Linked DNA regions of Homo sapiens. The protein of the gene in region 5 purifies or fractionates together with the protein of the main gene of each other region. This does not show direct contact. Each region holds a gene or a part of one and is shown on either strand. Other genes may lie near its edges. The genes, in order: STK39, HEATR6, METRNL, HS6ST2, CST8, ADGRG6 and KHK.

Region 1 (4,350 bases), on a different chromosome or scaffold from region 5:
TTTGCATTTCCTTCTCAATAAAGAAAAATACACTGAACTTTCCGGAAGAGGAGACTAGGGCTAAGTGGCTGACTCCTTTCTGAAGGACTGTGAATTTTATTCAGACCTTCGATAACTTGCTGTGTGTTCCTTGGCAAGTCATCTAATCTTTTTATTCCTTCCTCTTTTCTTAATTCCAATATCTACTAAATCATCGTATTTTCTTAAGAATTGGTCTAATCCTCTCCATTTCCAACCTCTCTATTCATATACAGGCTCTGTTGATTTTGCTCCTGGGCTATGGTTGTGGTCTTCTCTGCTTCTAGTCTTTTTCCTTTCTTGAACATCCCTGCATGGTCACTTTTTCCAAATGTTGTTCTTCTCTAACGAGAGAGGGAACAACAGCTGTTAATTGAATCAGGTACAAATTCCCTTACCTGGTGCTCAGACTCTGTGGTTGGTTGGGCCCCTCAACAATCTCACCCAGTACTTCCCTGCTTTTAAAAATAATGGCCTCTGTGGAAAAGAAGCTGCTTGTAGGAAAGAACTCTCAGGGTCCCCTGAAGCTATGGGGGCTCCTATTGCTCCAGACTCCCACCCAGCCACTTAGGCATCAGTGTCTCTTTTAACTCATTGTAGCTACATTTTAGGAAGCTCTGAACTCTCAAACATTGATCCCGTTACTCTCTGATCAAAGAGAGTCAATGTTGTTCATGCACAACTCAGGTTCCTTTTCAAAGAGAATAGCAGATACTGTAGAAGTTTGAGGTAGGTGAGGCTTGGGTACTCACCCACAGCTTCCCTTACAGGTTTTAGAGAAATCAACTTTCAGACCAAATTTTGCCCTTCATTAGCAAGCAAGCCCCTAAACAGTTCTCACAATTTGTTCTGTAAGCTCAAGGAAATCCCAGTTCTTTTTCCTCATAGGTGAATGAAAAATTCATTAGAGGCAGACATGCCAAGATTCCAGATGCAGTTTTTGCTTTATCCTTATGCTTGCTACTAGGAATCCAACCATCCACAGAACTGGCTAGGGTATAGTCTACAGTTGGACTGGACTGGATTGTTTTATTCTGTTCATGCAAGAGTAAGGAGTATATCTAAAATATTTTAGCCACTCTCTGGTGCTAAGAACCTTTATTTTCAGCAGTGAAAGCCCATTTCTAACATGTATCATACCTCTCAACAGGTCACTGTTTTCCCTAATAATAACCCCTTTGGACAATCAGTCACCTGGCTTATGCTCATCTATATTTAGATTTGGATAATAGAAATACTTCCAGCAGCTGCCTCTGGCATCCTGAGTCGAGTGCTATCAGAACCCCCCCAGCACTGGACATTCTTGGTTAGAATGCCAGCTGACCACCTAGGTTGTGGTATCACAAACATAATATCACATGGCATATGTTGAAGTATTTTAGGTACATTTTAGACATCATAACCACACAGTTGGCAGACTTTAGTTTTGCGGACTAAATTAGGCAGGAGAAATCGCTTTTCTATTTTTTTAAAAATGAATTTGTTGCCAACTACAGTAAGAAAGGGAGCTTTTTCATAAAGATTCCAATGTTTGGCTTTTTTGGGAAAACTGGGATATCCAGCAATCCTGGGTCTACATTTCTCTATGGCAACTTTCTTCTGGTGCCAAGCAGCAGGGGCCTGCCTTGGACCTTGGTGGGAGGGTGCTGACAGTGGGCTCCAGGGCTTCACACAGGGCCCAGCACTCCTAAAGTCTCCCGTCACAGAGACTGAGCATCAAGGGCCCTTGTCACTGAGACTGTAGCTGTTGTTTTTCAGGACCCTCTTTTCTCCATTGTATTCCTGCCTGGCTGCTGTAGGTGTTTTGAGTTTTTGACCCTTGCAGCTGTCAGTTTTTCTTCTTGGCTCCACACTTGTGCTTTGCTCATGCCGTTTCTTTGTCTGGAATTTGTTTCCTGTTGGACTTGCTCATCCAAGTCTTCACCTCATCTTGAAGGCTGGCTCCAAGACCCACTTTGGAGATAGTCTTCTATGACCATTATGGTTATAGCTCCTCTGCTTCTACACAGACAATATAGTATTTGATTTTATACATCTTATCCTACTTAGGTGGGAATATTCTTTTTTTTTTTTTTCTGAGACGGGCTCACTCTGTTGCCTAGACTGGAGTGCAGTGGCATGATCATGGCTTACTGCGTCCTCGACCTCCTGGGCTCAAGCGATTCTCCCATTTCATCCTCCTGAGTAGCTGAAATTACAGTTGCATGCCACCGCACCCACCTAATGAACTATCATGCCCGACAAATATTGTTGAAGTCAAGAAACATGTCTTCTCCTATTTTATCTCTGCCACTGTAAAATATTTATGCTTATCCCCTCAGCCTGCTTGCCTTGCTTATGAAAAGGCAGTGAGTAGCTTATCGATCTACCTAACAGTTGTTATAAAGAATAGTCATACATGGTAAAAAAAAAAATGAGTCTTATAAATATGAAAGTAATATAGAAATTGAGGCTCGGCATGGTGGCTCATGCTTATAATTCCAGCACGTTGGGAGGCTGAGACAGGAGGATCGCTTGAGCTCAACAGTTTGAGAACACCTTGGGCAACATAGAGAGACCCCATATCTACAAAAAATAAAAATAAATTAGATGGGCATGGTAGCACATGCCTGTAGTCATAGCTGCTTGGGAGGCTGAGGTAGGAGGATCGCTTGAGCATGGGAGGTTGAGGCTGCAGTGAGCCATGATCATGCCACTATGTTCCACCTTGGGCGACAGAGCGAGACTCTGTTTCAAAAAAATAAAATAAATAAATAAAAATAGGCCTAAATAAGAAGCCCAATAAGGCCCAGAAAGTTTAAGTCCCTTTCGGGAGTCATACAGTTGGGTAATAGTCTAGCCTTAGGCCTAATCACTGTTAACACTCAGATCTTGCCCATTAGTCCTGTAATGTTTCCTAGTAGATCTGCCACTCTCCAAATCAGATAACCATACCTGCAGATCCTCCTCAAGGCTTAGTAGCATTCACACATCAAAACTAGACCATGACCAATGTTACTGAAATCAAATTACGCAAAGGTGATGAATGCACATCAAATTACTCACCAAGAGCCAGGGTGCCGGAGATGCTGTGTCATTAACAAGGTCATGCAGAAAGCCTTCTGCTGGTGCACCTGTTCAGCATGGAGGGTTGATGTACCTAGACGACAAAGCATCATGTGCAAGGGCAATGCTGGTGAGGCCAAGGAGGTGATGGGATCAGGGAATAAAAAGTAAGTCATTCAGTAGGCTGGAGCTTACTGTCTGAATCTGAGAGTAGTGATATAGGTTTACGTGTTATGCTGAAGGATTTTGACTTTTTCCTGAGGGGACAGGGAGCCTTGAAAGACTTTTTTTTTTTTTTGAGACAAAGTCTTGCTCTCTTGCCAGGCCAGAGTGGAGTGGCATGATCTCAGCTCACTGCAACCTCCGCCTCCTGGGTTCAAGCGATTCCCCCGCCTCAGCCTCCAGAGTTGCTGGGACTACAGGCGCGTGCCACCAGGCCCAGCTGATTTTTTGTATTTTTTTAGTAGAGATGGGGTTTCACCATGTTGGCCTGGATGGTCTTGAACTCCTGACCTCGTGATCCACTTGCATTGGCCTCCCAAAGTGCTGGGGTTACAGGCATGAGCCACCGCTCCTGTCCTGAAAGTCTTTTAAGGAGGGCTCAGGCCTGTGACATAGAAAGGCCTGGTTGCTGGAGCCTGGATCTGGGGAAAGAAGGGAGATGGGAACTTAGGAGGCTGCTGCAGAAATCTTAGCAAGAAGTAGTGGTGGATTAAATGAAGGCAGTGGCTGTGGAGGAGCAAAGAAGTGGATGGATTCAGAAGGTCTTAGACCCTTTTTGTTATTAGGATGACAGCATTATTTGTTGTTGTTGTTGTTTTTCTTAAAGCAGCATTTACCCATATCCTCCAGTTATTCCTGGAGGCAGGGAGATGGACTGGCTAACTTTATGTGTAGCCTTTGATTCTGTGTTTCTAGAGAAATGTCTGTGGTTTTGTACCCAAGTGAATCTGGCTGCATTCCCTTTGGCTGTATAGATGTACCCCTTAGGAAACAAGGACAGCTTTTCACTGTTACAGTTCTGCCACCTTGTTCTAACTGTCATATGCAAGCTATCTCAATATAATATACCAATTTTTTGTGTATATAACATAAGCACACTATGTACTTTGCTCAAAATGTTCTGTTACTGAGTACATATAATCTGTATACACATCAGCCGTACATAGGAGCAAATTGTATATTTCTTCTGTAGTCATAGAGGGAGTAGATATTAGGATTGTTGTTTTCTGCTCCTGAAATTTTTGTTCTGAGTTTTAAAGACATTTAGCCATCTGTTTATGACTT
Region 2 (4,350 bases), on a different chromosome or scaffold from region 5:
AACTTTCACAGGTAGAAAGCTGCACAGCCAGGATTTAAGCCCAAGCTCTTAACCACTGCACTACATCAATGCAGCAAAGGCTGAATGAACCAGAGTATTTGATTTACTTAGCTCTTATGCTGGAAAGATGGTGAGGCTTTTGCTCATGGTCTGTATTCAAGCACAAATACCAAAATCAAGGACACCTTTGCATTGGTGCTCCATAGGAGGTTTCCTTTTTTGTTGTTTAGAGAGAAGGTCTTACTCTGTTGCCCTGGCTGGAGTGCAGTGGTGCGATCACAGCTCACTGCAGCCTTGACCTCCAGAGCTCAAGCAATCCTCCACCTCAGCCTCCTGAGTAGCTGGGACTATAGGTGCGCACTTCCACACCCAGCTAATTTTTAATTTTTTTTTTTTTGTAGAGACCGTCTCCCTATATTGCCCAGGTTGGTCTAGAATTCCTAGGGCTCAAGTGATCCTCCCGCCTTGGCCTATTGGGATTACAGATATGAGCCATGGCACCCAACCTCAGAAGAGGCGCTTTTCTTGAGTTCTGGAAGGGGATAGGAATTAATGTTTTGTTTGTTTGTTTGTTTTTTACTCGTCACAGAAAAGGTTCAAAGAGTAAGATAAGCAACGTCTCATAATGCTGTAGTCTAATGGACAAGGGCCCTAGCCATCTGTGCCTGGATGACTCTTCCTCCCAATTTTTAAGTGTCAAAAGATAATTTAGAATCTGGCATTCTGCATTAGAAATCTGAACCAGTGGAGCTGTGTGCTGATTTTCATCAGCTTAAGTTGTCTTTATTGTCAGTGGCTTCCTTTCCCCACAGCAGCTTTATGGAGGCACGTGCCCAGGCATATGAGGAGCTTCTGTCCTTTAGTGTATGTACACCCACAATGCTGCAGAGAAGAGAATCAGCATACTGTTGGGACACAGCAGGTACCACTGCCTTCTGAAGTTTCTAGAGGTGCTATGCCTTCATTGTTTTCCTGCACATGAACATTAACATCCACATCAGGATCTGGAAACCTTTACAGAAGCTGAAGTTTTAAAAAGAAAATGAATGGGATTTTATTCAAGATAAGGAAAGGATAAGAGTGAATCATCAAATGAAACCATGAGGCCACTTCACAAATATTTTATCAAAAAACTCACCTGAGAAAACTCAAAGAATCACAGTAATAAGCTGTCTATGCCATATTTTTTTTTTCCTTTTTTGAAAATGCCAAGAAGCTACTACTAAGAATGTATTCAAGAGACGGAAGTTCCAAGATTCATCACAGGGTCAGGTGGGCTCAACTTAGTTTCCTGGGCCCTCTATAACACTTCATGTTCAGAATTGTCTCCAAATAAAAGCAATTTAAGGGAACATTCAATATGGGTGTCTTTGCTGTGCTTGCAGTCTTAATTCTGTGGACACTGATATTCTATCAATGGAAAATTGAGCCTTTAGTGAACTTGAATACCCTGTTCCCCAATCACTGCCCAGAGAGCAGTTTCTGAGCAGCCAACATGTCAGAGGCAGGAAAACAGCAGCTAAAAGGCAAAGGAGAAAAATGGAAGACACCTGCCTTTACACGTGTATTTTAAGCTAAATAACCATGATAAAATATCACCAACACCCATTTTTTGTAACTTCTTAATTGTCCCACATCAAAGATAAGTATGGACAACTGTAATTGGTTCTTATATATCCCTAAATTCCTAATTGAAATCAATTCCAATAAATCGTTGGTGCTCAGTAGAAAAATGCAAAATTTAAATATATATATTCAGTAGAAGTTACCTTCATAACTTGTGGGGCATTATCAAAATATAATTGGAAACCCCTCTTTGTAACCAACTAACCAAATGATCTTTTCTTAAAGGCACAAATTAAAAGGTGGCAAAACAACCATATATTTAGTGTGTGGGATCACATTCTCCTAAAGAGCATCAGGAAATGTAGGTAGAAGTCAATGTTGTAGCCTAGGTTAGAAGGCCCTGCTTGCTGGGAGTTAACTCTGGTTATTGGATTGTGGGGAGGTGTGGCAGGGAAGGTGGTCAGGGGAACACGGGCACTCCAGAAGCTCGGAGCAGCAGCTCATCAGCTGTGAGGCACCGTCAGCATCCTTGCGTCCTGTGTGGCTGTGAGGCACTGTCAGCATCCTCGCGTCCTGTGCGGCTGTGAGGCACTGTCAGCATCCTCGCGTCCTGTGCGGCTGTGAGGCACTGTCAGCATCCTCGCGTCCTGTGCGGCTGTGAGGCACTGTCAGCATCCTCGCGTCCTGTGCGGCTGTGAGGCACTGTCAGCATCCTCGCGTCCTGTGCGGCTGTGAGGCACCGTCAGCATCCTCGCGTCCTGTGCGGCTGTGAGGCACTGTCAGCATCCTCGCGTCCTGTGCGGCTGTGAGGCACTGTCAGCATCCTCGCGTCCTGTGCGGCTGTGAGGCACTGTCAGCATCCTCGCGTCCTGTGTGGCTGTGAGGCACCGTCAGCATCCTCGCGTCCTGTGCGGCTGTGAGGCACCGTCAGCATCCTCGCGTCCTGTGTGGCTGTGAGGCACCGTCAGCATCCTCGCGTCCTGTGTGGCTGTGAGGCACCGTCAGCATCCTCGGTCCTGTGCGGCTGTGAGGCACCGTCAGCATCCTCGCGTCCTGTGTGGCTGTGAGGCACCGTCAGCATCCTCGGTCCTGTGCGGCTGTGAGGCACCGTCAGCATCCTCGCGTCCTGTGTGGCTGTGAGGCACTGTCAGCATCCTCGCGTCCTGTGTGGCTGTGAGGCACCGTCAGCATCCTCGCGTCCTGTGTGGCTGTGAGGCACCGTCAGCATCCTCGGTCCTGTGCGGCTGTGAGGCACTGTCAGCATCCTCGCATCCTGTGCAGCTGGGCCAGGACAAACTGGCTGAACTGCAGCTCTGCTTGCAGCTTGCTAGAAATACAACTTGGTAACAACAGGAGATTGTGGACACACTATTTTTCGTTAGTTTATTACAAAACTACAGATACAATACACAAAATTCTAATTCCGAAATCCTTCTACATTTTTTTTTTCTGAGACTAAATGCCCTCAAAGCCCGTCTGCTTGGCCTGTATTACAACCTGACTCCTCGGCTCCTGGATGCACAGGTCAGATGTTCCAACAACCCTGACCATGGCCAGTGCTATGGAGTCACTCCAAAGGTGGTTGAGCCCTCTGTGAAAATTTAAATGGCTGCTAAGTCATTCTAAATAAATAGTGAACGGATTGTTTCTGCCCCTAAGATGAAATCCCACAGATCTTATGCTCAAGCTCAGGTCTTCCTACTGCCGCCTTCGACATCTAGAAAGTATGGTGGGATCTTCACTGATTTGTTAACCCTGGGAGTGCCCCTTGTGATCCAGATGAGTCAAAACAAACGGCCAGGATCTCTTCTAAAAAGCCCATGATGGCCCTTCTGGCTGTGTCTCCAGTTGGTGCCTGGATGCTGCCCATGTGTTTAAGGGCCATTCTGACCATCTGGTCTCTTTCCTGTGGGCTGTGGGGTGCTCCAGTGTCATCTCCCTCTGCTCCTGATTTTAAAAACTGTAGAATATAGGACTGGACCATATTCCCACTCAGTTCAAGGGTTTCTTTCATACAAGGGAGGTCCGAGGCACTGGCCAAGCTCAAGAGGTGAATCAGTGCCTGGCAGATTTGGGTCCGTAGGCTGACACAGTACTTGAATTCCAAAAAGTCTATGGTGTCTTCACTCTTCTGTAAAGCGGTGACCAATGCATTCCAGATCCGAGCATACTGGTCAACAGACCCGTACTGCTCTCTCTTCCCCGGGACGGAAAGGGCAGCTGCAGATCTGATGCGCACTTTGAAGTTCTTGCATGATGTCACGACCGATGTCAGGGCATTGTAGGCCTGGGAGGTCCATGGGGCTGTCCCTAGAAAGAATCCACAGTCACTAAAACAAATGCAGGCTTAGAACTAGGTGGGGTGAGAGGGAGAGGGGTGGAAGGAAGCTTAAACACTAGTGCTCAAGACACTCATTTTATGTGTTCACTTCATTCTCACAATCATCCTGTAAGACAAGGGTGGTGACTGACTGTAGGATCCTAGGTAAGTGGCCAGGTGCCAATCCCCAAACCTCCCTCTTTCCCTACCTCAGCCTGCCACACGCTTAGAGCCTCTGCTACCCAATATAAAGCCTTTGGTGACTCAGAAAAAGGCTTCTTCTCTGGGAGGATTCTGTCCCGTTGGGGTATGGCTTTGTGGGCAGAGCGTGGACTGAACTGCAACCCCACCTATCCTCTCAGCTGGGCACTTCTGAGCTGTGTGCAAGCCACACACTGCATGCTCACCTGCAACAGCATCCAGACACTGCTCTGGCCATAGCCAGTCATGCATTTTATTGCAAA
Region 3 (3,857 bases), on a different chromosome or scaffold from region 5:
CCTTCAGAACGTGAAATGGCACCGGCGAAACCAGTGCCATTGAGATTTCACGTCTCAAAGTTTCTATTGCGTTAGGAGACTTGGGGCCAAAACCTAGAGGCTCAGAACAGGTGAGGCCTTGAAACCTGCAATAAGAGCAAATAATAAAACCATGTTTTCCAAGTCCGTCCCGAGTGTAGGAATGCGGGGCGTGCAGAGGTTTCTGTTTCACAGTGGCCCGCCCATCTAAGAAACTGGGGCGAAGGGCAGGGCGAGGGCTGGGCCGAGGGGAGAAGGTTGTTGGGAAAGCCTGGTTTGGCCGGTACGGGAGCTCATTCTGAGAAGCCTCCGTGCTTTCCGCATTCTCTGGGGGAGGCCAGGCCCCGCAGGGTTCAGGGGCTTCAGAGGGGGTTCTGTGAGCAGGGCTTGGCTTGAAAGCCATTTGGGGCATGCACCTCATCCCGCGGCCAGGTGGCATCCGGGGAAGGGGCCGGGCCGATGGCCCTGACTGGAACTCACTGCCCTGCTGGGTGAGGCCCCACGCCGGTGGCAGGTGGACGCGTCGCTGCCTGCTTAGGGATCCCCTTCCTGGAATCTTGGCCTCGCTGGCCCTTCCAGCCACATGGGGGGTCCCGCGGGATGGGATCCTCCTTTTGGGTGCCGCTGCCGTCGCGACCCAGGGAAGTGGGCAGCAGAGCTGTGGGGAGTGTCTGCCCTTCGAGGAAGCTGGGAAATGAGGGTGGTCCCGGCGCCGTGGGCCGTGGAGGTGGGTTGGGGGCGACTCTGGGAGGTGGGGGTGCTCCTGGCGCCGTGGGCTGTGGAGGTGGGTTGGGGGCGACTCTGGGAGGTGGGGGTGCTCCCGGCGCCGTGGGCTGTGGAGGTGGGTTGGGGGCGACTCTGGGAGGTGGGGGTGCTCCCGGCGCCGTGGGCTGTGGAGGTGGGTTGGGGGTGACTCTTGTCTGGTGGGTTCGGTTCAGCCCCAGTGGGCTTTGCATTTGCAACAGGCACGTGAGCGATTTCTCAGTGAGTCCGGCTCAGCCGCACTGAGGAGATAAGTGGGGAAAGAGCACAAAGACCCCTCCCCACGAAGGCCCTGGGACATGGCCGGACTGAGGGTCTTGCTCTCGGACATGTGCCCATCATGGCCGAGGTGCAGGTGCCTTTGGTCCAGGTGGGGCCGAGGGGTCCCCTGGGTGAGACCCCGTCGTGGTCGAGGTTGTGTTTTCTGTCTCCCGTGCTGCCGGCCCCTCCAGCACGTGCCGCCAACTCACATTTGAAGTGGCGTTGGTCACAAAGGTGCCTTGACGTGGACACCCTCCCTGACTTGGCTTTGCTGAGTGTGAGGATCCTTTGACGGTGGTGGGCGGCGTTCCAGAGCCTGTCCCGTCCAGGCTGCTTCCTGACTCTGCCTTTCTTCTCCAGCGCCGTGCCGTCCCTGCAGTGACACCGAGGTGCTCCTAGCCGTCTGCACCAGCGACTTCGGTGAGTGTCTCCTCGGCAGCTTCTACCTCCTGTGCTCCTGGTTTCTGCCACATGGAGCTGTTTGGGCCCAGGAGTCCCTCTTCAGGGCCCAGGACAGCCTTCCGGTGCTGCGTGGACCCTCCTGGAGGGGCACACGCTGTGGAAGCCCTGGGCTCGGCCCTCCACCAGCCCTGGGGACAGGGACGCCACCGCCCACACTTGGAGGGAGCTGGGGGTTGTTTTGGTGACTGTCAAACATTTTCCCATTTTGTAAATGAGATCACTGCTCTTCGAGGGGACTCTTGAAGTCCACTGTCTCCCAGCAGCTCTTCTTGCTGAAGTGCTTTGTAAACAGCATTTTATCAGCAGCCCAGAGCATCCTTGGCGTTGGACACTCCTTGCCCCCCACCAGAGTTCACGCTGTTCCAGGCCTGAGGCCCCCGGCGGCTCTGCGGCTCTGCAGGAGGAGCTTTGGGGTCCCAGGGCTCCAGCCCCTTTGCTTGTGGCGTTTGCACAGACGCCCTGTGGGAAAGGTTTGGCCTCCCGTCGTGTGGTGCCGTGGAAGCCATGTCCTGCAGGCCCCGGCTCTGCACCCCACCTCCAAGCTCAAGGACAGGCCCCTTCTCACTGCTTTCCCGGCCCCTGGCATGGAGTTGGGGCTGGGCAGGGGTCTCCAAGTGTGGCGCGAAGGCTGTCCCCATGCCCACCCTCTCCTGTGAGCTGCACCGGGTCTGTCTGATCAGGACACAGAACTGCAGGGGCACCCTGTGTATCAGCTGGACTTGTTTGTTCTGTTTTCCCATTTAACAGGTCTGGCCCTTGGTAGAAAGGGCACCTGTTCTCTGACGATGTCTAAGTATCTGGGACACCCCTTGGCAGCTTTCTGCTGTTACATTGTACTTTTCTCTGGGAATTTCCACGCTAGATGGCAGAGTCGGGGGTCAGCTGCCCGTTCCAGTGCCCATCGATGCGGGGGCAGGGGGAGGTGCGGTGGTCTTGCTGTGTGCTTGCCTTTGCTCACTCCCTGTCCCCATCTCCTTCCCCGCACAGCCGTTCGAGGCTCCATCCAGCAAGTTACCCACGAGCCTGAGCGGCAGGACTCAGCCATCCACCTGCGCGTGAGCAGACTCTATCGGCAGAAAAGCAGGGTCTTCGAGCCGGTGCCCGAGGGTGACGGCCACTGGCAGGGGCGCGTCAGGACGCTGCTGGAGTGTGGCGTGCGGCCGGGGCATGGCGACTTCCTCTTCACTGGCCACATGCACTTCGGGGAGGCGCGGCTCGGCTGTGCCCCACGCTTCAAGGACTTCCAGAGGATGTACAGGGATGCCCAGGAGAGGGGGCTGAACCCTTGTGAGGTTGGCACGGACTGACTCCGTGGGCCGCTGCCCTTCCTCTCCTGATGAGTCACAGGCTGCGGTGGGCGCTGCGGTCCTGGTGGGGCCGTGCGGTGAGGGCCGCGCGCTGGGAGCCGCATGCCCTGGGCCCAGGCCTGACCCTGGTACCGAAGCTGTGGACGTTCTCGCCACACTCAACCCCATGAGCTTCCAGCCAAGGATGCCCTGGCCGATTGGAAATGCTGTAAAATGCAAACTAAGTTATTATATTTTTTTTTGGTAAAAAAGAAATGTCCATAGGAAACAAATTCCCGTGTCTTAAAACGCCTTGGTGTGCCGTCTGATACTGTTCTCTAAAGACGTTAGGAGTCACGGCATCTGGCCTGCGGTTGGGTGAAGCACTGGCCGTTGGGCACAGTGGATGTGTGAAAAGGTGCCATTCAGAGTTGTTATTCTCATGACGGAAGTTTTGGAGCCAAATAATACGTTTTTTATTTTCATTTTATTTTTAAAGGATGAGCTTTGGTCCTTTTCAGGCCGCCGGTTGTTTCCGTTCCCGAGAATAAAGACGAGGATCCGACCAGCCAGAAGCCGGAGTCTGTCTTTCGCCAGGTCCGGTGCCCACGGCCCGTGTTCAGGGCCTCGCTGGACGTACCCCAGGGCGCCACCCTGCCTCGGCAGACACGCTTGCTCCGCCCGGCGACTGTCCCTCAGCGCCTGCTGCTGCATTTCCATTAATGCAGGTCCTGCCCTGTGGCCCCAGCCTGCCCACAGTGCAGGGGCCCACAGCTAGTCTCTAGACGCCCAGGAGCTGGTCTGAACCCAGGTTGGTGACCCCATGTCCCCAAAGGATGCGGCTACCAGAACAAATCACCACCGACTGCGGGGCTGAAACAACCTCGTTCTCTGAGTTCCTGAGGCCACAATCCAAAGTCACGGTGTGGGCAGAGCCTCTCCCTCCAGGGCTCCAGGGGAGAACGCTTCATCTTCTCCTCAGCCTCCAGGGGTTCCAGGGAGGACCCTTCGTCTTCTCCTCAGCCGGGGGCGACCCTTCGTCTTCTCCTCAGCCGGGGGCGACCCTTC
Region 4 (4,858 bases), on a different chromosome or scaffold from region 5:
TGTCAGTATGAGAAATTCTTTTCAATATTGCCAAATTGTTTGGGAACTTATTAAACACCAGAATATTGTTGTGACAATGACTTACACAATTGTACCAATGGATTGAGGTCCTGGGGCTAAGGTTTTCTTGGGGTGGAAGAAAAAATTTGTTAGTATTGGAAAGGAAATACAAGTTTGGCAGATTCTGACACAATTCCAGCATTTGAGAAAGGACAGTGTAAACTGAGAGAAGAGAGAGTGAAGAGGAGAGCCAGGGGGTGATGTTCCCCTTAAATCTCAATGGTAATCTGAAAGTCAGAGGGCTCTAGGGCTCTATTTGCTGCAGTTGGACAGAAAAATCCACACTGGTTGTTGCGTTCTAACAGTCACCTGCAAAGCATCCCCTTGTCCAGGGTACCAAGTGCACCCGGGGGATGGGGATGGGACACAGACATGTCCTTGCCGGCCCAGAGACCCCATCCAGAGGCCTCCAGGCCATGAAACTCACCTTGTGCACCCCCTGGACTCCCTGCTTCAGCCCAGATTTGTTTTAAGGAGACTTGCGAAACAGTAGCCCTGGCTGGACTAACTGCACCCCATAGCACTCACTTCCCCCACCCCACCACCACCCACTTTACAGTACTGCATGACCTCTAGCAACTGGACATCGCGTCTGGAGGGAGGAAAATACCCTTGCTTCTGGCTACAGACTATTAATAAATCAGCTTTTACCGCATCAGCCCAGGCTCACAGAACATGGGCTGGCAGCGCCCCATGCTGGGGCTCAAGCTTTTTAAATATTTTTTGTAAATCAGGAGAGGCTCCTGGTGACTGAACCCCACATGGGGTCCAGGGCACCATCCCAGCCCGCCCTTCGGTCCGCGGGGTGCCCCCCGCCACTCCCAAAGAGCCACGGATGCCTCTCATGCAGCCAGTAGTGATAAGCAAGCCTGGGAACCATGAGCTCTCCTTGGATGTCGGAAAATAGCGACAGAGGGACACCCAGTCGCCCGGGAAGACCAGAGCCAGAGCGGGGAAGGAGCGAGGTGATAAAAGTCCGGCAAGAAGAGAAAAACAGAAAGGGTAAGAGAGAAAAAGAATAAAAGCGAGAGAGGGGAATGGAAAGAAGGAAACAGCGAGCAAACAGGAGCAGACAACATCTAGGACACAAGAGAGAAAGAGGGAGAACAAGGCAAATAGACGAAATAGGGGGGAAAGCGGGGGGAGGGAAGAATGCGGGCGCCGAAAGGAGGAAGAGAGCGCTGAAAGGAGACTTCGGAACCCGGGTGCAGAGTAGAAGAAAGCAGGGATCCAGAGACGCTGCACGGAGAGCGCGGCTCTTTAGGGCTCTCCAGTGCGGAGACTGAGTACGATGCCCCGTCCCAGCGGCCCCGTTCCGGCCGCTCGGCCGCCTCCCCCGCACGCTCTGCCAACCATCACGCAGGCCACCCTGCGGACAGACAGACGGTCAGTCCGGGGCCGGAGCGGAAAGCCTTTCTGTGGCCGCCACAGCGCGGCGAACGTGCGCTACTGGGCGCCCAGCACCTGCCCAGCCGGGGTGCAAACGCCCGGGCGTCAGGGTGCGCGCTAGGTCCCCGGCTTGGGCCAGCCGCGCCTCCCAGCCCTCCGCCCGCCTAGGCCCGGGTCCCGCTCGACTACCGGCGCGCACTCACCTGGACGGTCTCAGCCTGGCGTCGCGCTTGCCGTCCACCACGGAGGGCACACAGCTGGTGAGCTCGGTCCAGTCGGCGTGCAACCCGCAGCTCCAGCCCGTGGAGAACCTGGAGAAGAGCCAGGTTTCCCGCTTACCCGGCCGGTGGCAAGTGCATTTCTTCTGACCCACGCGGCACTCGCACGGCTGCTCCAGCTGGATGTTACGCACCAAGTGGCGGCCGAAAGTGGTGCCCCCGGTCTTCTGGATGTGCAGGAACACGATCAGGTCATCGCCCTTGATGTCGAAGTCTACCTTGCGCAGGAGGTCGCCGCGGGTGAAATTGTAGCGGGGCACGAACCTGGCGGAGCTCTCATCCTCCGAGCGGTACGGGTCCGGCACCGGGGAGCTGAACGCCTGCAGGCGGAGGAGCTGGCATTCTGTGCCGGGGCACACGTATTGGAGGACGATCACGGCAAATAGGAAGAGCATCACCAAAGCTAGCAGCAGCTTGTTGGATTTCTCATCCATGTTCCCGACGCTGGGGGAAACCCAAGCTCGTTACGTCAATCCCGCAGCTCAGCCCGCGCTCGTCGTGCCCCCGCACCGCCCCCTTCCCCTGGAGCCGCTGCTGCGCCCCTCTCCCCCTCCCCTCCGCACCGAGTACTCCACGGCGGCGGCGGCTGCGGCGGCGGCTCCCTTCCCCGCTTCCTTCCTTCCCGGCAGGCTCAGCGCTGTGGCTTCTGCGGCACACACACACCCCCACCCCGACTCCTTCCCGCGGGCCGTTCGCCCCCTCCCCCCGCCAGAGCTCTCCGGAGCTCCCCGGAGCCCCTCCACGGGGTTTAGCCCCAGTGGGACCCCTCCGGGCCCAGTCGCCCCACTCCTCAACTCACGCCCCCAGTCCGGGCCCCCGCGTGTCTCGCTCCACTCTCGGTGGCTCCCGCTCCCATCCCCATCCCGCTTCGTCCGCCGGACTCTCCGGGCTCTTCTGCCCCTATCCTCTTTGGAGCGCACACCTCTGTCCGGGTTTCTCCCCGCATGCCCCGAAGCCCTCCTTTTGCCGGCGCCCGCGCCCGCTTGCCCACCCGGTAGGCGGCCTCGAGGGAGCTCGGAGCCGGGGGCTCAGAGTTACCCTGGGGGAATGAGCCGGCCGGCAGCCCGACTTGCTATCGGAGACGCTGCGCTGCCGGTGCCCGCGGAACAGTAGCGACGGAGCCGCGGCGTGGGCAAATGCGCGCCGCACCCCTCCGGAGACCCTAGCCGGGCCACCAATGGCCAGCTGGAACTTTACGCCCTTCTCTACCCCCCGCGGCTGCCTTCCCTCCCCGTACAGCACCTTCGCGCCCTGGCCTGGGAGCGCGAACCCCGCTTTCACCTAGAACGTACCTGGCCATGGGGCCGAAAATCTTGGAGAAGATCGCACCGAGCACGTGCTTCAGCGAGTGGCCCAGGGCGGCCAGGCCCCGAGTGAGCAGGGCCCGGCAGAGGGAGCCCAGGTCCCAGCGTCGCCTGAGGACGTGCATCCGCCTGCGGCGGCCCCGGGACAGCAGCGCGAAAAGCGGGGCGCACGCGGCTCCCGCCAGGGAAGAAGACGCCTTTCGGGGCTTGTCCAGGAGCGGCCGGGTGTGGAATCCGTGAGACACACCCCTAGGAGGGCCCGCGCGAACTGAGGCGGCGACCGACCCGGGCCGGCTCGCTGCCAATTCGGCCTCTACTCTGGAATGCCGGCGGGGACAGGTGGTGCGGACGGGCGCTCCTCGCTCCGGTTGCCGCGGCGGCTCGAACTCCCGGACTGCACACGCAGGCAGTGCCATTCCCCCCTTCAGGCAACTCAGGGTACTAAGGATCACGAGCGAGCTTGAATTTATATAATAATGCCTCACGCCTAAGAGCTCGAGCCACTTCACAAGCAGAGAACCTGGGTTTTCTCTTTTCTTGGAGTACGGAGGTCACTCCGCTTAGCGCATCACTCCACTTTGGCTCGTAATTTCAACCTCTCCTAAAATAGCAAAGGCGCAAATTGGAGCTTTTCCGTCTCTCTTTGCCAATTTCCATTCTCCAGCGGAAGCGGGGGCATTTTCTGAAAAGGTAAGTCAGCATGATAAAAAGACAGCAGGACCAAAAAGCATTACAGAATGAGAATCTGACCTTTTTTAGAGCACAGACTGTCTTCTTGCTGAATCCTGTGTACCAAACCCTGTGCCTGCAGGAGGGCTTGACTCATAAAAGGTTTGTTGAATGAATGGATACATAACTAAAAACTCCATCAGAGTGAGACCGTCTAATCCAAGGTAATGTGACACATGAGGAAACTGAGGCCCAGAGAGGGGTAGGGATGTGCCCAAGGTCACACAGCAGAGCCCCAGGGTTTGAACCCAAGAAACCCAGCACCATCCACCTATTTCCTGATACTAACACCACCTTCTCTAATAAATAGGCACAGATCTTCCTCAAGCTCCAGTGTCCGAAAGGCTCTTTTCTGCTGCTGGACCAGGAATGCAGGGTTTAACAGGGAAAGAATGGATGTTCCTTCAGGAAAAGGACCCTGGGAACTCAGGAGTCAGTCTGTCCCCATCTGATTGATCAAAGGGGCTTGCTGTACATCAGGACACTGGTGTTTCCGTGACTGAGTGTGCAACTCCCTCCAGTCCCACTGCTACAGAAGGGGCACCGGTTGGCAGCAGTGTTTCTGAGCAGTGCTGTTGGCACTGGGGCCACTGAGTGGGAGAATGCAGACCACGAGCTGAGTCCTGGGGTGGGGGCATGTCCCTCCTGGAGACAGGCTCTCCCAGTATCTCCCTTGCTGAGCTCTGCTCCATCCGTTTCCTGTTCTATCTATGCCATGAAGCGGCAAGCCTAAGAATAGTCCAGAAGTCCTGGGAAATCTGTCCCTGGGCAGCACTGGGATAATCACTTGCCCCTCCTGAGCCTCAGTTTTCTTGTCTGTAAGATAGGACCAATTATGTCCCCTGTTTTGACCAACTGAGTCACCGTGGGGATGAAATGTAGAAACCTTTAGGCCACTCCAAATGTGAGGCTGTGTTTACCTGTTGCTCTAAGCTCAATGTGCCAACTGCGTCACAGGCCAAATAAGGAACAGGCCGTTCTCAGGCAATTCTGTGGCTGTGCACCCTGTCTTTACCACCCCCTAGAATTCCCAGCCCTGGCTAGACTTCTACGTGCCCCCAAACCTACTGGGGACCGTGAGGGACCCTTTGTCCAGCT
Region 5 (4,926 bases):
CTTGGAAAAAGAGAAAGTTTTTATTATTGACAAATGTCTGCTTGAACATGTATGTCTTAAAAACTGAGACGTATCATGGAAATCTTAGACACAAGTGGGCTCCTTGAGAACAATTTTCTTTAATGCACTTTAATATTTTCTACAAACTGCCAAAAGCAAAAACTTTTCTACAATCCCTAAAAGCCCGGGAGAAAATATAAATTTAAAGCAACCATATTCCTAATACCAGTAAAAGATAAAACAAGCATAAAAGATCAGATAGCATTCGGACAAGCTCACTGCTGAAATGTTTGTCCTGACGGGTCATTTATTGTGAGCTGGAAATGATAGGGTTTGTTTCATTTGAGCATACAGAGGCAGTTTTCATCAAACATAATGGCAGGGCAGTTCATAAATGTACCTGCAATTTCCTGTGCCATGGCAGTGCATAAAGCAGTGGTTCTCAAAATGATCCTAAGGCCAGCAGCAGCAGCAGCAGTAGCACCACTCAGGAACTCATTAAGAATGCAAATTCTTAGATCCCATTTCCTGAATTGGAAACTCTGCCGGTGGAACCCGGTCATCAGGGTTTGTCAATACCTCCAAGTGATTGTGATGCCTGCTCACATTGGAGAACCACCAATGTAAAGACAGGGACAGTGATGCACCTGTTGGGCAAACCTGCAGAATGCTCAGGCCTTCATCTGTCTGGGACCAAGTACTGGCCTATGAGCTGCTCTGAGATAAAAAATACAGGCTTGAAGCCAAAAGCCCCTGGGCCAAGTCCTCCTTTTGTTGGGAGTCTGTGGGTTTGCCCCAACCTTCCTGGAAACCTGGACTGACCCCAGCAAAAATCAACTGTAAACCCAGGAGGGTGGGGCCACCCTCTGGCTTAGTCATTGCTTAATCTCCAGCACCCAGAATAGACCTGGTGCAAAGCACGTAGCACCTGGTGCTCAGTAATTTTCTATGAGTGGATGAGTGAATGAATGAAGTTCCTTTTGTGTCTGTATGGGGATGAGTGACCATGGGCCCAGCAATAGTGGGTGGCTTGTCTGGACCCAAGAGGACAGGCTTTTGGTGATTATGTGTTGTCCAGTGTGCCTGCATCAAAAGGCCAGAAGTCAATGGAGCCCTTGAGATAAGAGTGGTCTTGACAACATCCTTTCTGCAGGATGAAGGATGAGAAAGAAGCTCAGAGGGTTCCACCACGTTCCGTGGCCCTGGATCTTCTGCTATAAAGGCCACAGGGTTGGCTATCTGGGGCTAAACACTGGGAGCCACCCAGACCTCAAAGAGAAGGTCTGCGTGCCTCAGCTTTCTCTCTTGGGTTCAGAGCTGCCTAGGCCGTCACAGATGAGTGGTTCATCACCTACCCTTTTCAGCTTGGAGTTTTCTTGAATGGCGCAGATTTCATTAGTGCTTAAAGGCTTTCTGCAATCGCTGCGGGCAATTTCTACATCAATAAGGTATTCCAGAAGATTTGTGACCTGTTGGTTAGCAATTATGCAATTTTATTCAAAAGAGTTGTACTTTTTTAAAGTTTTGACAAAAAAAAAAAATTACTCTTACTCTCGTCCTTTCCTCTTTCCTTCCTCCCTCACCCCCAGACAGAGCTTTAGCGGAAGGCTAAGATGCCCACTGCCTGGAGCCCTGTGTACAACAAGATCAGTCAGGACTCCATAGGCTCCTGGAGCTGGACACTTGAGTAAAGACTCCTCTCCAGTTTGTCACCTCCTTGAAAGCAAGGCCTTCTCATTCCATTTCCTGTCCCCAAGCCCAGGGCATGCTGCATGCTCAGTGAGGACTGAGAGGTGAAAGGTGGGCTCTTCAGAACCATCAGCTCTCCTGGGCCTGAGATGCTCAGGTTCACACAGGCCTGACCAGGGGACAGCCCCCTCAGCCACATTAGGCCCCAGTCCCTCAGATTCCTGTGAAACCTCCCATCCTCTGGGGTTTCCCCACCCAAAGCCCCTCCCACCAGCTCAGCACACAGTCCATGAGGACCCATGCAGGCATGAGTTTGCCTGTCTTGTTCTCTGCTGAGTCTTTAGTGAGTAGAACAGCAGTAGGTTTATAGCAGGACATTAGTATTTGTTGAACTCATTAGTGACTGAATGCAATCAAGGCTACTTGTGATGTCCATTTAAATCTGTTTTCATCTGGCATTAAAGGATTACAGCAGGAGATGAAGGAGTGTCTGCTAGTTGGGTCCAGGTTCACCTGGACTCACCTTTATCAGATCTTTTCTCATGGCTAGCATTCTATCTGTCTCCCAACCTTAGCAAATACATGAACATTTGATTTGCAGTTTGGGGTTTAAATGAGTTAATCTATGCGAAGGACTTAGAACAAAAGCGCAAGCGTTTGTAGAAAGTGCTCTGTGTGTTCACTGCCTTATTGATGCTGTGGAAGTGTCTAGGCTCTTAAGCATTCACATATTTAGGATTTTTGCATAGTGATATTTTTCTTATATGCCCACTCTTTCAGTCTGGCTTCAACTGTGCCACCATATGCAAATGTCCACCTATATGGAAAGACACCTTTACCTGAAGCTGGGCTTGCAGTGTCTTGACCACCAGGAAGACATACTTGTCCTCGCTCTCTTTGTTGTATTCTTGCATGGCAAACCACAGACACTGCTTCACGTTGGCATTTGAGGCATTGACGGGTTTTAATTTCCTCAGCACCCCTGTCTCATTCTTTTTTGGGTCTTTCCTGGCCACCAGGGCCAGGGGAATGGTGAGGAGGATCAGGGAGAGCCACCGGCACCTGGGCATGGTCCCTTGGGCAAGAGGCAAAGTCGACTCTCCTCCTCGTCGTCTCAGGGCTGGAGCTGTGGGCAGGATGGGGTGGCCGCAGCTGCTGCTGTGGGTTCAAGAATCTTCGAGCCACACACTGCCTCCTGTTAGCGTCAGCCCAGCTGGATTCAAGACAGGCCATTAGGGTCACTCTTTGGGGTTTGTCCTCTCTTTCTCCATGGAAACCCACCCAGGAATGCCAGTTAAGGAGTCTCTCTACCAGCCTCCCCTCCTTACCCTGAGAGCAATCTGTGTGTCTAGGGAGAGTTCCTCTCCCCTTCGGCCCCAGTGTGTCTATGCCTACCCCTGTGAGCGTCACTCTTGTTATCTGCTTCTCAGTCCTGTATGATGTGATCATGAAAACTGTGGCTGCCCCAGAGGCCTTGTGGCCTCAGCCCTTGGTGGACTTTCAGCCTGCTGTGCCTGCAGCTCCTTCTTACTCCCTGTGGAGCTGGGAGCTGACCTGACCAGTGGTTCTCCTAGGTCTTCAGCACTCTTAGTTCATGCCTGTGGCCCAGTCAAGGGTCTCTGTGGGTCCTGGTCTGCGGTCTCTCTTGCCCCTCTGAGTCCACGCCCTGCAGGGAGGTTACGCTTTGTGATGTAATTCAGCACCTGTGTCTTGTCCCAGTGAGGACATCTCCCACTTGCCAGCCTCCGGCCTTTGGTCTAAACAGCTCTCACAGGGGCACAGAGAGCAAGCAAATGCCTCCTGCTGTGCCCTCAGAGTCAGGGGCCTGCAATGGTTAATACTGAGTGTCAACTTGATTTGATCGAAGGACACCAAGTATTGATCCTGGGTGTGTCTGTGAGGGTGTTTCCAAAAGAGATTAACATTTGAGTCAGTGGGCTGGGGAAGGCAGATCCACCTTTAATCTGGTGGGCACAATCTAATCAGCTGCCAGCGAATATAAAGCAGGCAGAAAAACGTGAAAAGGAGAGATGGTCCTAGCCTCCTAGTCTACATCTGTCTCCCATGCTAGATGCCTCCTGCCCTCGAACATCAGACTCCAAGTTCTTCAGTTTTGGGACTCTCAGACTGGCTCCCCTTGCTCCTCAGTTTGGCAGACAGCCTGTTGTGGGCCCTTGTGATCATGTAAGTTAATACTTAATAAACTCCCTTTTATATACATATTATTTATATATATAATTTATGTATATTTTATATATATATAATTTATATGTATATTTTATATATATACAATTTATATATATATTTTATATATATAATTTATATATAATTTTTATATATAAATTATATATATTTTATATATAATTTATATATATAAATTATATATATTTTATATATAATTTATATATATAAATTATATATATTTTATATATATAAATTATATATATTTTATATATATATAATTAATATATATATAATTTATATATATATTATATATATAATTAATATATATATAATTTATATATATATTATATATAATTAATATATATATAATTTATATATATATTATATATAATTAATATATATATAATTTATATATATATTATATATATAATTAATATATATATAATTTATATATATATTATATATATAATTAATATATATATAATTTATATATATATTTTATATATATATAAAGGGGAGTTTATTAAGTATTAACTTTATATATATACACAACCATATATATCCTATTAGTTCTGTCCCTTTAAAAGAACCCTGACTAATACAGGGCCCCTCTGGCATCTTCTGCCCACCTGTGCCAATGACTCTGGCTTCCTGAATGCCTGGCCTCTGAACTCCCTTGGCTTGGGCCAACAGTAACCCCCTGCCCTGTCCTGCCAGGGTAAGGGTCACGTGGCCCACTCTGATGCCCAGGCCTGGCCCTTAGTGGGAGGAGGGGGGCACGCACCTGTTAAGCTCTCAAAGCTTCTGCTTTTCTGTGAAAATCCCAAATCAGTGTCCAGAAAGTTCCTGGTGAGGCAGAGAGGTGAGCATTCTTCCTAGGCTGCAAAGATCAATGGGTTCTATGAGCAAGGGCAACGTACAGAAAACACATATGGGGCAGGAATCTGTCAGGCAGGTGGCAAAGCATTGCAGACTACAAATGCATTATGCTGTATTTAAACTTTCTCCCTATGACTAGATTCTTCAGTTTCTCATTTTCAGCTGTTACAAACA
Region 6 (4,350 bases), on a different chromosome or scaffold from region 5:
TTCAAAGGGGAAAGCCTAGAAATGATGCCTCAATAGTGTCTTCTTTGAGTTGTGTGGCTATTTTATAGAAAATGTTCCAGCTGCTCTGATAGCCTCTCCTGCCTGGAAGCTAACTAAGGGGGACACAGGAAGTCACCTGCAAACCAACAAACTCTCAGACTTCTTTATCCTCACATCATCTGACTTTTTGTTTGACGACTCTCTAAGTAAGCCTCATGACATCAATGATTCAGATTCTACATTTTAAAGGATATCAAAGTAACAGCAATACGTCAACAACAACAATAAACTCTTGTATTTCAGTACTGAGCATTAGTGAGTTATATCAGTTTTCTGGGAACAAGTACTGTCATCACCAACTGAAAATTCAAATAACTTTCCCATGTATACTGTGAACTTTAAAACTGTTAGGTTTTAGCCTTTTATTTTTCCATTGGTAGAAGCGCTTATCCACAGATTCATTTGCAGAAAAACAATAAAACGGATAATTTAAATTAAATGGTATAAATTAAATGTCTAAATATATGGACAGAGTGGTGCTGGGCTTTCACAGCCTATGAGGACAGAGCCAGTGCTGGTCCTCCTAGGGTTCTCCAGTCATAGATAAACTACCATTTGTCAGACTCCTTCTTTGTGAAGACTCCTATACGTGAAAGGGTAGCAGCTTGCATTCTCCCTCCCTCCAAAAAGCCCCATTTGTTAAGAAGTATTTTCCCATAGAGACTCAGAAATGGTTTATTACCATGATTAGTATTATTATTTGCATTCATCCATCTCTATGAGTTCTTTGTAACGGTGTACATCCACCCAATAGAGATGGGTGGCTCCTCACAGAAGTGGAGATGCCTGCCTCTTTACTAGACTGTGATTATGGCCTTGGTCGCAATCGCCCTCTTCAAGGCTGAGGAACACTTGCCTCCCTCAATTCAACCTCCTGAGTGTAGAGAAGGCGAAGGGTCAAAGTTTTCTTTTCTTTTGATCTCTACTAATGTACCTAATCACAGTATAATTGCAATCATAGAATAACATTAAAACAATTGCTTTTTGTTATCCATATTTGTGAACATTTGATTTCCTAAAATATTCTCATGCAGACTCATTCATTTGTCTATTCAACAAGTGTTCCAGTTCCAGGGAATGTGCTGGGTTCTGGAAATATGTGGGAAGTAAGAGTTAAAGAAAAAAGAAAATATGATCTTAAGTCAGAGATTATTGTTTACAGAATATATACATATATATATATGTGAACATAAATATATCTAGTCTTCTAAGTACTATGGTCTTCTGATGCATATGATGCTCTAGGCATCTGGACAGCATGAAGTAGAGGCTCAAAGGCAGTGATGTCTATACTTTATTTCAGAAAAGGTTCCAAAGAAGAGCTGACTTAGGAGCTGTCTTTAAAAATACATAGGTGATAATGAGGTTGCCGGTGGGAGTGGAGAAGAACAGTGTGCAAAGATATAGAAAGGGTATCTAAAGGAAGCAGCACAGCCTCTTTGTGGAAGTACAAGCCGTGCCATATGTGTGGCTAGAGCTTAGGATGTGAACGATCTCCAGGAGAAACTTGATTTTAGGTCCAACAGAATCCCTACATTCATGACCTAGTCCTGTGAAGACAGTGGTATCACTAATAGAGACAGGGAACATGAGAGAAGGAGACGTTTTCTGTTTGTTTTTTTGAGACAGGGTCTCATTCTGCTGCCCAGGCTGGAGTGCAGTGGCATGAACATGGCTCACTGCAGCCTTGACCTCCCAAGCTCAGGTAATCCTCCTGCCTCAGCCCCGCCTAGTAACTGAGATTACAGGTGCACAGCACAACACCCAACTAATTTCTTAATCTTTCGTAGAGACAGTCTCCCTGTGTAGCCCAGGCTAGTCTCGAATTCCTGGGCTCAAGTTATTCTCCACCTTGGCCTCCCAAAGTGCTGGGATTATAGGCATGAGCCACCATGCCCAGCAGGAGATGTTTTAAAACAGGAAATCTCCTTCTATAAGATTTATCTCATTAGAGTTCCCACATTCACATCTACACACTCTTTTTTTTCCCTAAAGTTGACAACAGTGATGATCAAGATTATTCTGGCATTTTGTTCATATTGTTAGTATTTTCAAAATATGTTCCTAAAGTAAAATATAAACTTTCATCTACCTCCTTCATTCCCTTGGATTCACAGACACTGAGCTGATTTTTTTTTTCTGCTATGTCATTCATTTGTTACTGAACTTCACCATCAGAAAAAAAACTTACATAAACAAATAGCGCATAAAGAAAATTTCTGCTGTTGTTTCAAGTAAACCTGAATATACAGTTGTATAAAATGCATATTATAAAAAAATTAGTCACTTACCCAGTTGTCTCACATTCACTGTATGTAGCCTCAAGCCTTCATCCAAGGACTCATTATTTTTTAGGAGCTTCTGCTGAATGATTTTTCCTTCCAAATTAGTATTGTTGGTAGCATTGTAAACTAGAAGGGCCCAAAGCACCAACCTAGGGAAACATTTCGGATAGAACTGTTGTTGTTGTTCATTGGTTGCTTGTCATTTGGTAGGAGAAACAGAGTATTTGGATGTAGAGGGATGACCATCACCTGTTGAGACTGAAGAGATTAGCCAAGGTGCTCACAGACTTTCTCTGCTGCTGTGTAAATTATAATGTTAAAAATATTCCAATATTAATAGATTCTATAGGCTATTGCTTGTATAATTCTGTCAAATAACTCCATTTCTTTTCAGAAATATTTTAATATTTAATATTTATAGTAATACATTATATAGTCATTTAAAGCATAAACACAAGAAAACAGCATTCCTGTGGTTAATTCTACATTTTTTCTTTGTGGCCCCAAATTAATTTTTTTTAATAAAACTATGATTTCAACTGACCATTTATCTTTTGAAATTACCATTTCTAACTATTAGAAATTAACTATTTATATTTACTAACACTATAAAAGTGTTACTATTCATGAATGTGATATAATTTCTTCAGAATAGCAACAAATGATTTTCTATCTCCATGAGGCATTTGCAAATACTTTTTATGGTAAAAAGTTTCACAAAATAAATACTTAAAATCGACTCTGTGATTGGTCAGCATATTACTTAAGAAGGTTATAGAATGGTTGACTTTGAAGGTCTTTAAAAAGGAAATACCTCTATGGGAAGCAAAGAAATGTATCCCCAAAGCCCTGTTAAAAACTTTTGGTTCTACAATTTAAAGTAATATAATTTTCTGTTCCACTACAATCACAGCTATAGTCAAAAGCAGAAATCAAAACTATTAATTTAACACTGAGGTAAAAGTAAGTAACATTATTTTGTCAGGTAGAGGAGAATTTCTTTTGCTTATATGTGAAAGCTCTGGATTCACAAAAAAATTGTTTCTTCTTCATATTCAGAGGAGAAATGAATAAGATAAGACGTTATATTATTGAGATCAGTTACTGTCTTCACGCCAAAGACAAAGTGGTAGTATTGTTTTTAAACTAGTTATGGAATGTCTAGTGGAGAGGCAGTGACATTTTATTTATGAAACTATGAATATTAATAAGTATTATAGTAGTAATTTATTTGTGGTGTTAAAAAATAAGAAGGAATATGTGAAATATTTGCTATTCAAGGCTAGGTGAAATTAAAGAATAGCTCAAGTTTTCTTTCCTAAATATCTGTGCTAATTTCAAGGAATAGGTGCTCTACTCTTCTCATAATTAACTCTGAAAAGCTCTCTCTAAAATGATCTACTGCTTACCATTCGCATACAAGCCATATTTCAGGATGAGGCAAACATAATGAATATAATGATAGCTGTGAACATAGATGTGACTATGATAGCTTAACAATTTTTAAAATGGCCCATGAAAAAGTATCCCTGGATTAAGTCATTGTTTAAAGACAAGCTTCGCCACTCCAGTTGGTGAGAACTTACAGCTGGGAATGTGACCTTTTACTTGTCTTGAATACTGAGAACATAATTAGCCCAAAGTATTGTGGGTGATATTGAATACCCAAACCCAACAAGTCAGGAATAGCCATACATTTTCACAGGTCTTATCTGTGTGTTTTCCTCTCTCATCCTGAAAACTGAAACTATTTTATGGTTCTACAAAGTTACATTCTATCTGTTGTTACCATCAGCCATTCTTTATTTGAAAAAAACCTCTCTGTGGCTTTGGTTTCCTGTCTGTCTAGGCAATAGAGTATGACAGCATTATCTGAAGCTATGGTCTGTGTTAAGTGATACAATCAAATTGAAAGGAAAAGTTTTTTTAAAAAACAATGTATGTAAAAGTAGTAGACTGTGGTTTTGACAAAAACTGAGACTATAAAGCCTCACCAATGAGGGTA
Region 7 (3,096 bases), on a different chromosome or scaffold from region 5:
AGGGCCAGGCAGAGGCTAAAGGAGATGCCCCTGGGCCCAGAGGGGAAGCTGGGGGCCAGGCAGAGGCTGAAGGAGATGCCCCCGGGCCCAGAGGGGAAGCTGGGGGCCAGGCAGAGGCTGAAGGAGATGCCCCCGGGCCCAGAGGGGAAGCTGGGGGCCAGGCAGAGGCCAGGGAGAATGGAGAGGAGGCCAAGGAACTTCCAGGGGAAACACTGGAGTCTAAGAACACCCAAAATGACTTTGAGGTGCACATTGTTCAAGTGGAGAATGATGAGATCTAGATCTTGAAGATACAGGTACCCCACGAAGTCTCAGTGCCAGAACATAAGCCCTGAAGTGGGCAGGGGAAATGTACGCTGGGACAAGGACCATCTCTGTGCCCCCTGCCTGGTCCCAGTAGGTATCAGGTCTTTCTGTGCAGCTCAGGGAGACCCTAAGTTAAGGGGCAGATTACCAATAAAGAACTGAATGAATTCATCCCCCCGGCCACCTCTCTACCCGTCCAGCCTGCCCAGACCCTCTCAGAGGAACGGGGTTGGGGACCGAAAGGACAGGGATGCCGCCTGCCCAGTGTTTCTGGGCCTCACGGTGCTCCGGCAGCAGAGCGCATGGTGCTAGCCATGGCCGGCTGCAGAGGACCCAGTGAGGAAAGCTCAGTCTATCCCTGGGCCCCAAACCCTCACCGGTTCCCCCTCACCTGGTGTTCAGACACCCCATGCTCTCCTGCAGCTCAGGGCAGGTGACCCCATCCCCAGTAATATTAATCATCACTAGAACTTTTTGAGAGCCTTGTACACATCAGGCATCATGCTGGGCATTTTATATATGATTTTATCCTCACAATAATTCTGTAGCCAAGCAGAATTGGTTCCATTTGACAGATGAAGAAATTGAGGCAGATTGCGTTAAGTGCTGTACCCTAAGGTGATATGCAGCTAATTAAATGGCAGATTTTAATCCAGGTCTGTCTCACTCTAAAGCCCTTTACATTATATGCTCTTTACATTATAAGGCCTTACCCACCCTATATTGGAGTTGGCCCCAATTCCAATATGTGTTCCAGATCGGACCTCCCTGAGGACAGCAACACTCTGTATCCTGGGTCACATTTGTGGCTGAGGCACGCCCTTAATTCCAAGGTGGGCTCCAAGGGTGAGACTTTCAGGCTCTGGGGCAGTCAGCGGGAGGAGGTATTTCTGGACAATGAAGACCCCATCAAATCACAGGCTGGTGGGCAGGGCAGAGGAGGCGCACCCCTGCCCCCCACTGGCCTGTCAGTTCAGCTCAGCGGTGTGGACTCCCAGCTTCTGAGCTGTGGGAATAGAGTCTGCACAACGCAGGGCCCCGAAGAGCTCTCACGGTTTCTTTGGCAGGTTCACTGGGTGTGGGGCACCGAGTGTCCTCCCCAGCCAGGGCAGAGCTGGTGGCAAGCCCAGGGCACTTCTCGCTGCTCTAGCCCAGGCAGCCCCTCCTCTGGGCCTGGGCGGAGAGGTTAATTTGGGGAATGGACACAAAGAGGGAGGATCGAAGAGTCAGAGCCTCAGGAATGCCCAGCCAGAGCAGTTCAGACATTGAGAGGAGAAGCTGGCTCTGAGGAAGATTTATTTGCTCTGAGGCTCTGCATCCCCCAGCCATCCCCCCAGAGCCTCTCCCTGTGGGGAACACAGGACACAGGCAGAGTCCTCCCCACAGCTTGCATCTGTCCCCTGAACAGGGCAACCTGGACGCCAGGCTGGATGGAGGGGAGAAGGCGATGCAGCCGCAATGGTAGTCTCCATGGTGTGTGAGGAGCCGGCACCTGCTCTCACACGATGCCATCAAAGCCCTGCAGGCCACACTTCTTGCCGGCCACCTGGCACCCGAATCTCAGTGCTTCCTGCACGCTCCTCCCTGGAGGAGGGGCAAGTAGCTAGGTCAGCCAGGTGTTTGGGGCAGGGACAGGTCCCAGTCCTTTTCCCCTCCTGCTGCCATACTCACCCTGGGAGAGGCTGAAGATGACGGAGGCATTGAAGGTGTCTCCAGCTCCCAGTGTATCCACCACGCGGGGTGGCGGGAAAGCATCCGAGTGGAGCAATTTGCCATCAGGGCCCAGGGCGTCGGCGCCCTCCTCAGCCCAGGCACAGACAAGCACAGCCCTGCAAGACGGCTCCACTCAGCTGGGTGTTAGCCCACCCCGTCCCCCCAGCCATCCTCCCAGCTCCAGGGCGGACTCCTGGAGTCCAGGCTCATCCTGTACCTTCTAAAGCCCCTTCCTGGCTTCCCCGGCTCACCCTTTCCTCACACGACCATACAAGCCCCTCAAGGCTTCCTCTGCTGACTGGAACCCCAAGTGCTTGGCCACATCTTTGCTGACAAACACCTGTGGGCAGTGGAAGAGAAGCTGGTGGTCACTTCTAACTCGTCATTCACCAACAGCAGCCTAGCGTTGCCCCCATTACAACACGACTCCCCCAACATGTCCACATAGATCCCCAACGTAGCATCTCACTGTCCCACGGGAACGTGGTTTTCTTTTTTCTTTATTTTTTGTGAAGATGGTCTCCCTGAGGCTGGTCTTGAACTCCTGGCCCCATATGATCTTCCTGCCTCAGCCTCCCAAAATTTCTGGGATTACAGGTGTGAGTCACTGCACCTGGCCAGAAGCATATTTTTATCGATGCTTATATATAATAGAATACAGCCTTGTAAATTGTAAAACAAAAGGCCTGGTCCGTTTGTTCTCTGATCAATGGATTGAAAACCCACAGAAAGCCTTGAGCGCCACCTTGGGGTGGAATCTACCACCGCCATGCTGGCTCCCTGGAGCAGTTTTGCTGGTTTTTCCCACAACTATGTCCTCTAGGTATGGTTTCTTCATCTGGAAAACAAAGAGGCTCCCTCAACACTACCTACACTTTAGAATCTCCAGAGAAAGTTTTGGTAAAAACAAAAAACAAAACACCGAAGCCTTGGCTCTACCCCTGCCAATCAAAAACAAGATGGTGGGGCTCAGGCACTGCAATCCTCCTGCCTCAGCCTCCTGAGTAGCTGGGACTATGGGTGCACACCACCATGCCAGGAATTTTTTTTTTTTTTTTTTGTATAGAGACAGGGTCT

The links.
Region 1: the proteins of CST8 (region 5) and STK39 purify together in Homo sapiens (affinity purification with mass spectrometry; one large-scale study listed by BioGRID and IntAct). This does not show direct contact.
Region 2: the proteins of CST8 (region 5) and HEATR6 purify together in Homo sapiens (affinity purification with mass spectrometry; one large-scale study listed by BioGRID and IntAct). This does not show direct contact.
Region 3: the proteins of CST8 (region 5) and METRNL purify together in Homo sapiens (affinity purification with mass spectrometry; one large-scale study listed by BioGRID and IntAct). This does not show direct contact.
Region 4: the proteins of CST8 (region 5) and HS6ST2 purify together in Homo sapiens (affinity purification with mass spectrometry; one large-scale study listed by BioGRID and IntAct). This does not show direct contact.
Region 6: the proteins of CST8 (region 5) and ADGRG6 purify together in Homo sapiens (affinity purification with mass spectrometry; one large-scale study listed by BioGRID and IntAct). This does not show direct contact.
Region 7: the proteins of CST8 (region 5) and KHK purify together in Homo sapiens (affinity purification with mass spectrometry; one large-scale study listed by BioGRID and IntAct). This does not show direct contact.

What each region holds. Positions count from the first base shown.
Region 1 is NC_000002.12:168,142,724-168,147,073, reverse strand, and holds part of STK39 (STE20/SPS1-related proline-alanine-rich protein kinase), read left to right. Parts: intron 1-4,350. UniProt on the Homo sapiens protein: Effector serine/threonine-protein kinase component of the WNK-SPAK/OSR1 kinase cascade, which is involved in various processes, such as ion transport, response to hypertonic stress and blood pressure.
Region 2 is NC_000017.11:60,040,259-60,044,608, forward strand, and holds the end of HEATR6 (HEAT repeat-containing protein 6), read right to left. Parts: intron 3,877-4,350; coding exon 3,305-3,876; 3' UTR 750-3,304; downstream 1-749. UniProt on the Homo sapiens protein: Amplification-dependent oncogene.
Region 3 is NC_000017.11:83,091,766-83,095,622, forward strand, and holds the end of METRNL (meteorin-like protein isoform 1 precursor), read left to right. Parts: intron 1-1,401; coding exon 1,402-1,461; intron 1,462-2,490; coding exon 2,491-2,810; 3' UTR 2,811-3,357; downstream 3,358-3,857. UniProt on the Homo sapiens protein: Hormone induced following exercise or cold exposure that promotes energy expenditure. Induced either in the skeletal muscle after exercise or in adipose tissue following cold exposure and is present in the circulation.
Region 4 is NC_000023.11:132,955,156-132,960,013, forward strand, and holds the start of HS6ST2 (heparan-sulfate 6-O-sulfotransferase 2), read right to left. Parts: upstream 3,475-4,858; 5' UTR 3,448-3,474; coding exon 3,020-3,447; exon of another isoform or gene 2,280-3,019; intron 2,172-2,279; coding exon 1,653-2,171; intron 1-1,652. UniProt on the Homo sapiens protein: 6-O-sulfation enzyme which catalyzes the transfer of sulfate from 3'-phosphoadenosine 5'-phosphosulfate (PAPS) to position 6 of the N-sulfoglucosamine residue (GlcNS) of heparan sulfate.
Region 5 is NC_000020.11:23,489,501-23,494,426, reverse strand, and holds the start of CST8 (cystatin-8 precursor), read right to left. Parts: upstream 3,311-4,926; 5' UTR 3,085-3,310; exon of another isoform or gene 3,018-3,084; intron 2,903-3,017; 5' UTR 2,760-2,902; coding exon 2,529-2,759; intron 1,470-2,528; coding exon 1,356-1,469; intron 1-1,355. UniProt on the Homo sapiens protein: Performs a specialized role during sperm development and maturation.
Region 6 is NC_000006.12:142,395,757-142,400,106, reverse strand, and holds part of ADGRG6 (adhesion G-protein coupled receptor G6 isoform beta 1 precursor), read right to left. Parts: intron 2,495-4,350; coding exon 2,352-2,494; intron 1-2,351. UniProt on the Homo sapiens protein: Adhesion G-protein coupled receptor (aGPCR) for steroid hormones, such as progesterone and 17alpha-hydroxyprogesterone (17OHP). Involved in many biological processes, such as myelination, sprouting angiogenesis, placenta, ear and cartilage development.
Region 7 is NC_000002.12:27,098,459-27,101,554, reverse strand, and holds the end of KHK (ketohexokinase), read right to left. Parts: intron 2,360-3,096; coding exon 2,271-2,359; intron 2,203-2,270; exon of another isoform or gene 2,136-2,202; coding exon 1,978-2,135; exon of another isoform or gene 1,891-1,977; coding exon 1,805-1,890; 3' UTR 1,772-1,804; coding exon of another isoform or gene 1,715-1,771; 3' UTR 1,120-1,714; coding exon of another isoform or gene 1,013-1,119; 3' UTR 793-1,012; downstream 1-792. Other genes in the region: CGREF1 (cell growth regulator with EF hand domain protein 1 isoform a precursor), read left to right, coding at 1-281. UniProt on the Homo sapiens protein: Catalyzes the phosphorylation of the ketose sugar fructose to fructose-1-phosphate.